2 linked regions of the Homo sapiens genome follow. The protein of the gene in region 1 purifies or fractionates together with the protein of each later gene. This does not show direct contact. Each region holds a gene or a part of one and is shown in the gene's direction. Other genes may lie near its edges. The genes, in order: RAB17 and GTPBP1.

Region 1 (3,769 bases):
TGCTGTCTTCCGGGTCAGAGCCACGGAGTGCACGAGACTAGGTTGCCTCAAATACCTGTCCAGGGGCCCACCTGAGGGCCTTACATCTCTGCAGGGAAGGGAAGGGTCTATGTTCTGTAAATAGCCAAACATTGACTATTATTATGCATTATCATTGCTTGGACTAAAACCCATGCCCTCCTTGGAAATTTGCTGGAATTTTACATTAGTGTAAATTCAACCACCAGCCATCATTTTCCCTCCCCTCCTCCCCCCCCTTCTTTTTTTGAGGCAGAGTCTCACTCTGTCTCCTGCTGCCCAGGCTGGAGTGCAGTGGCACAATCTTGGCTCGCTGCAACCTCCACCTCCTGGGTTCAAGCGATTCTCCTGCTTCGGCCTCCCGAGTAGCTGGGACTACAGGGGCATGCCAGCACACCTGGCTAATTTTTGTATTTTTAGTAGAAACAGGGTTTCACCATGTTGGTCAGGCTGGTCTTGAACTCGACCTCAAGTGATCTACCCACCTCGGCCTCCCAAAGTGCTGGGATTACAGGCATGAGCCACTGTGCCCAGCCTCCAGCCATCATTTTCAACATGGAAAAGGAAAATATGAGAGGCTAAGATTGGTAAATGGAGGAAGAAAACCTGAATTTTATGCTCACGTTTCACCCTGCGCCAGCTTTTAAGATAAAACCAAATTCAAACTGAGAAATGTGATTTGAAGTGATGGGAAACAGAAAGATGTGGATAAAAGGCCCACGTTTTAAGACAACAAGTCCACAAAGAGCAAAGAGGACAGAAAGAAGAAGCAAAATTCATATGCCCTTTCTCTCCTTGCTCAGGCGATTTAACAGCCACCCTGGGTGAAGGGCACCATTAGCTCCTGCTATGGATGAGGAAGCTGAGACTTAGAAAGTTTAAGCAAGCTGCCATCAGATCAGCTGATGGGTGTACATTTATATTCTGGGCACGGTCTTCATTCTGGCACCATTGTCAATCCAGTGGAGCATCTGGTGTGTTCAGAGGTTTATAGCCGGTTCAGTCCCGACAGTTGCCCCATCTAAGCTGGAAATCACTGGTCCTACTGTCTGGATGGAGACTGCAGCTTTGTTTGACCTGGGGAGTTGGTCTGACTTCAAGTTCCTGGACCTGCAGGGAACTGCAGGACATGCGGGCAGAAGAGCCCAGGCAGTGGTTTCCGTTTAGGAAGAGGTTGTCTCATGATAGAGAAGCACGGTCTTGCTGCACCATGCTGGAAAGCTCTGTCCAGCCTCCTGTTCTCTGTCCAGCCTCCTGTTCTCTGTCTAGTGGGTGCAATTGAGTTTCTCCCACCCGTAAAGAGGCGATTAAGTCCTAACCCCCGGAACCTGTGAGTGCGACCTTATTTGGAGAGAGGGTCTTTGCAGATGTAATTAATTAAGGCCAACAAGATGGAACTTAGGATAGCCCTTAAGTCCAGTGACTGACATCCTTATAAGAAGGGGAGAGGACACAGCCACAGAGGGGCAGCCACGTGAAGACAGAGCCAGAGATGGGGGTGATGCAGCCACCAGGAACACCAGGGTTGCCGGCAGCCCCTGAAGCTGGAGGAGGCCTGGAATGGATTCTCCTTCAGTCTCCGGAAGGAACCAACCCAGCCAACGCATCAGTTTTGGACCTCTGGCCTCCAGAACTGCAGGAAGAAATTTGCTAATTTGAGCCACTCGGCTCATGGGACTTTGTTTTGGCAGCCGCAGGACACTCATGCACTGTCCTTGGAGTGTAAGTTTTTATTTTAAACATGTGGCTCCATTTGCCAGAATCTCCCCAACAGACCCCAAACCCAATCCAGGGTCTAGGCAGGGTAGCAGCTTTGACAGGAGCCTGTCGGTGCTGGTGGCTCCTCCATGCCCCAGACACCTTGCCTTCCCCCGCCCCGTCCTCTCCAGTTCTGTGTATAACACATTCCTGACAAGCCACACACAATGGGGCAAAACATTTTGGAGATCTATAAAATAACCATTTTAAAATCATATAACTTTGGAAAGCAAAGGGTAGAAAATCTTTAAATGAACAGTGCATTGCCCAATATGTTAAAGTGCTTGGGAGTAGTTGTGTGTGTGTGTGTGTGTGTGTGTGTGTGTGTGTGTGTGTTAAGCAGGTACATGGCTGAGTAAGACAAAGCCCCTGCCTTCCTGGGGGAGACAGGTGGAGAACGCAGGAGGCCTTGCCTCTGGGTGTGTATGGGGTGCAGGGAGGCTTCCGTGGAGGCAGGGGGCCCAGCAGCCCTTCCGGGGTTGCCGCTGGAAGATCTCAGAGGATGCCTAAGAGTTTTCTAGGTGAACAAGAGGAAGGATACCATGCAGAGGGGACAGTAGAGAAGGGTGTTGGTGGGGAGCAGCATTGGGAAAGTGGGGAGGTTAGCAGGAGGCGAGGAAGGCCTTGGAGGAGCCTATGCAATCGTGACTGCCTCTGTGCAAGATGGGTCTGGCAGGCGAGGGGCCGGTAGGCCGGGGGTGCCCAGGGCTCTAGGGGTTCCCAGAGCCCAGCTGCATCGCTGGAAGCTGGCAGGGATGCATCGGACTCCCAGTAAGTGGAGATCCCTTTCACGGCATATGTAGCCCAGAGCTTTTGTATTAGGTCCTGGAGAGATTTATCTTCCCATCCAAAGCCTCTCCAAAGGCCCCATAGCAATCACTCCCAACACTTTGCTCGATGTGGAAGGCTCCATCTCCCAGAAGAACTGTTTGCTCAACCTCCTGGCCATGCGGGCGTGGGAGATGCATGGCCAGCTGTCCCTCTGAGCCCATTGCTGTGCCTGCGGCTTGCCGTGGTCCCACCTGAGCCGCATGTGGCAACCTCGTCCTCTGAGTAAGCCCTCTGGGCCTCCCTGTTTCAGGTGCGTTCTTCACAAAGGTGGTGGATGTGGGTGCCACCTCTCTGAAGCTTGAGATCTGGGACACAGCTGGCCAGGAGAAGTACCACAGCGTCTGCCACCTCTACTTCAGGGGTGCCAACGCTGCGCTTCTGGTGTACGACATCACCAGGAAGGTAGGGCCCGCCTTGAGGCACGTCCCACCCTCCTTCCCAAGCACCTGCCTTCTGGTTTCTCCAGTGCAATGATGCCATGGCGTAATCACAAGGAACAGAGACTCCATTAGTGAGCAACAGTCACCTCCTCCAGGATGGCCTCCTGACAACCCCCCATCCTCCTCCACAGTGGGGTTCTGCTCCTCCGTGGTCCACAAAGAACATGCCGTTGCCATCTGCCACTCAGTAGTTCCTGGTGCTGCATTAGGGTCAGGGTTTGGGGTGGTGGCCAGTCCCCCAGACTCTCTTGCACAAAGTGGTCCTTTGAGGACAGCTAGGCGTGGGAGATTCAGGAGCTCGAGGCCTGACCTGAAATACCCCGTGGCTGGCAGTCTCCTGGGCCTGGTCAGGGTGAAGGATCTGATGTGTGTCCTAGCAGTTTTCTGCCTGGCCGCACAGGTCACCCAGGACAGGAACGTGCCCTCCTCAGAGGAACGGAGCAGCCCTGCAGGTGCGCCCATGGCCAGTTGGATTCTGTGACATTTTACACAACGTGATCAGCAACACTGGCTTCCCCCTCCCGGAATAGCTAATGACCACCTATAAGTTTTGTTTGATGTTACTTTTTTTCTTCTTTTCTAGGATTCCTTCCTCAAGGCTCAGCAGTGGCTGAAGGACCTGGAGGAGGAGCTGCACCCAGGAGAAGTCCTGGTGATGCTGGTGGGCAACAAGACGGACCTCAGCCAGGAGCGGGAGGTGACCTTCCAGGTACCGCCCAGGA
Region 2 (3,815 bases), on another chromosome or scaffold:
TATTTTTAGTAGAGACGAGGTTTCACTATGTTGGCTAGGCTGGTCTGGAACTCCTGACCTCCAGCAATCTGCCCACCTTGGCCTCCCAAAGTGCTGAGATTATAGGCGTGAGCCACCGTACCCAGCCTGATTTAATATTTTTTAAAGAGACAAAGCCTCACTCTGTTACCCAGGCTAGAGTGCGGTGGTGCGACTGTAGTTCACTATAACCTCAAACTCCTGGGCTCAAGGGATCCTCCCATCTCAGCCTCCCAAGTACCTAGGACCACAGGCGTGCACAACCATGCCTGGCTAATACTAATTTTTTTAGAGACGAGATCTTGCTATGTTGCCAAGGCTGGTCTCAAAACTCTTGGCTTGAAGTAATCATCCCACCTTGGTGCCTCCCAAGGTGCTGGGATTACAGGTGTGAGCCACCGTGCCCAGCCAAGTATATATGTTTAGTTTGGTTTTTTTTTTTTGTGGCTGAATCACTTAAAAATAGTGGACATGTCTTCATCCCAGACAAAGTCACAATGTAGACATTGTGACTTTTCACTGCTAAACACTTCAGCATACAGCTCCTAAAAGTGAGGCCTGTCTCCTACTGTTTTTACAATCAAGAAAATGAAGAATAGTTACCTAATATCCTCAAATATTTAGTCTGTATTTATATTATTTCAGATGTTTCCCAAATATCTTTCAGCTGCTTTTTTTAAGCCATGAATCAGTCACCAGTTATCCCCCACTGCCTTTTATTTTCTTTCTTTCTTTTTTTTTTTTTTTTTGAGACGGAGTCTCGCTCTGTCGCCCAGGCTGGAGTGCAGTGGCGCGATCTCAGCTCACTGCAAGCTCTGCCTCCCGGGTTCATGCCATTCTTCTGCCTCAGCCTCCCAAGTAGCTGGGACTACAGGCGCCCGCCACGATGCCCAGCTAATTTTTTGTATTTTTAGTAGAGACAGGGTTTCACCATGTTAGCCAGGATGGTCTCGAGCTCCTGACCTCATGATCTGCCCGCCTCGGCCTCCCAAAGTGCTGGGATTACAGGTGTGAGCCACCGCGCCTGGCCTTTATTTTCTTTGAGATGGAGTCTCACTCTTGCCCAGGCTGGAGTGCAATGGCGCAATCTTGGCTCACTGCAACCTCCGCCTCCTTGGTTCAAGCGATTCTCCTGCCTCAGCCTCCTGAGTAGCTGGGATTACAGGCAACTGCCACCACATGCAGCTAATTTTTTTTTTTTTTGTATTTTTAGTAGAGAAGGGGTTTTCACCATGTTGGCCAAGCTGGTCTCGAATTCCTGACCTCAGGTGATTCACCCACCTTGGCCTCCCAAAGTGCTGGGATTATGGGCATGAGCCACCATGCATAGCTGAACACTCACCTCTTTTTATGATAGCATTCTATATGCAACTTACTTTTTTTTTCCCCTTAAAAGCATATTTTGGAGATTAGTCCATATCAGTAGATAAAAATTTCTTCTTTTGTACAGCACATTTCATACACGTGCCCTGATTTATGTAACCAGTCCTTACGGTGATATTTGGAAACATTTATTGTTACTGGAAGGATAGTAATAGTAATAACAGGTGCAATTGCTTAAACACCTAGTTCCTGCTAGTTGTGTGCTGGACACTTCATGTGTGTTGTGACATTTAAACATCAAGTGACCCTCTGAAGTGGATATTGTTATCTCCCCATTTTACAGATGGGGAAACTGAGGGCCAGTGATGTTAAGTTGAATCCACTTTTTGTTGTTGTTGTTTATGAGACACAGTCTCGCTCTGTCACCCAGGCTAGAGTGCAGTAGCTCGATCATGGCTCACTGCAGCCACAACCTCCCAGGCTCAAGTGATCCTCCCACCTCAGCCTCCCAAGTAGCTGAGACTACAGCGTATCCTGCCACACCCAGTCAATTTTTCTTTTTTTTGTAGGGTGGGGGAAACAGAGTTTCGCTCTTGTTGCCCAGGCTGGAGTGCAATGGCACGATCTCGGCTCACCACAACCTCCACCTCCCAGATTCAAGCGATTTTCCTGCCTCAGCCTCCTGAGTAGCTGGGATTACAGGCATGTGCCACCACGCCTGGCTAATTTTGTATTTTAGTAGAGACAGGGTTTCTCCATGTTGTTCAGGCTGGTCGCGAACTCCCGACCTCAGGTGATCCGCCTGCCTTGACCTCGCAAAGTGCTGGGGTTACAGGAGTGAGCCACCGTGCCCAGCCTTAATTTTTGTATTTTTTTGTAGAGACGGAGGTCTTACCAGGTTGTCCTGCCTGGTCTCAAACTCCTGGCCTCAAGTGATCTGCCTTCCTTGGCCTCCCAAAGTGCTGGGGTTACAGGCATGAGCCACTGCTCCTGACTTGGATTCATTTTGATGGCTCAGGACAGTTGTTTCCCTGACTGGGTTTATCTTTTTTATTGTTTGCAAGTCTCCTCCGATTTTGACGCCCCACATCATCGAGTCAGGGGTTAACGTGATTTTTGCCCAGCCCAGCTTTCATCCACATCTGCTTTTGAGCCCCTGTGTCCACCCAGCAGCAATCTCTTTCTCTCTCGTCCTGACACTTCCTTTCTGTGTTGGGGCAGGTGGGCAGCAATGCTGGCATCGTGGGGATGACCAAAGAACACCTGGGCTTGGCACTGGCACTCAATGTACCTGTCTTTGTGGTAGTCACCAAGATTGACATGTGTCCTGCCAACATCCTGCAAGGTAAGTGAAGCCTCCAGCTAGCAGCAGCCCCTCTGATTGGGGCTGTCACCTGCTGTGCCTTCAGGTGGTCTGCTACCACGGCTTTAGCCCAGAAACTTCTTTTCTTTTTTATTTTTATTTTTTTATTTTACAATATGTTTATTTTTATTATGTGCTCTACATTGAACACTTCAGCAAAGAAAATAATTATAATAATTTCAAAATGCAATCCCTGGATCCAATAACTATCCTTTATAATCCGTTACACTGGTCAGTATCTAGAAATATATGTAGACAAAGTTAGCTAATGAATAAAATAAGTAAAATGACTAGGTAAACTATAAATTTCAAGCATGAGGGATCATGCATGATCAGTTAAGTCACTCTGCCACTTTTTAAAATAATATTCACATTTGCTTCAATCACATAAACATTCATTGCAGGAGTTAAATTTGACTGCTGATAACAATTGAAAGCTGTGATCTTTGTTAGCTTAAAAGAAAATTCAGCTTAATACAAAGACATTCAAGATGAAAATTTCAGGACCCTTGATCAGAAGCTTTCAATGTGTGTTGCTCCACTTTGTTGTAGGCAAGCTTCAAGTAAGGCTAAGACAGAAGAGTGTTTCTACTGAAGATGTGATCTAAGAATTGCCTTCTACAGAGGCGAATTATATTCTGTAGAAACTAGCTAGCCACCAAGATGTTACCAATAAAGGATTCCTTATACTAGCAACTAACCATGTTTAAAAGGCCTTAGCCATTTAGAGTAATATTTATGAGTACAAGCATAATTGGTTCCTTGCCTTCTACAGATAATCATCTATAAAATGATAAAAGCAGGCTTCAACTGTGTTTCTTCTCTGGGGTGAGAAGGTGCAGATACACATGGGTGATCTACTGATTTACCTTCTGAAAGTACTCTTTGGAAGCAGCTGGATTTGGCTTGATTGTAGGAGAATCCAGTGTCCAGTTTGCTGGGCAGACTTCTCCATGGGTTTCTACATACTGGAACGCCTTCACCAAGTGGAGGGTTTCTTCCACGCTTCGGCCCACTGGGAGGTCATTGACGCTCAAGTGCTTGATGACTCCATTGGGGTCAGTTATGAAGAGACCTCTTAGTGCAAGACCAGAACCTTCTAACAGCACAC

The links.
Region 2: the proteins of RAB17 (region 1) and GTPBP1 purify together in Homo sapiens (affinity purification with mass spectrometry; 3 studies listed by BioGRID and IntAct, with this or other methods). This does not show direct contact.

The regions. Positions count from the first base shown.
Region 1 is NC_000002.12:237,577,244-237,581,012, reverse strand, and holds part of RAB17 (ras-related protein Rab-17), read left to right. Parts: intron 1-2,857; coding exon 2,858-3,009; intron 3,010-3,630; coding exon 3,631-3,756; coding exon of another isoform or gene 3,757-3,769. UniProt on the Homo sapiens protein: The small GTPases Rab are key regulators of intracellular membrane trafficking, from the formation of transport vesicles to their fusion with membranes.
Region 2 is NC_000022.11:38,719,180-38,722,994, forward strand, and holds part of GTPBP1 (GTP-binding protein 1), read left to right. Parts: intron 1-2,562; coding exon 2,563-2,686; intron 2,687-3,364; exon of another isoform or gene 3,365-3,815. UniProt on the Homo sapiens protein: Promotes degradation of target mRNA species. Plays a role in the regulation of circadian mRNA stability. Binds GTP and has GTPase activity.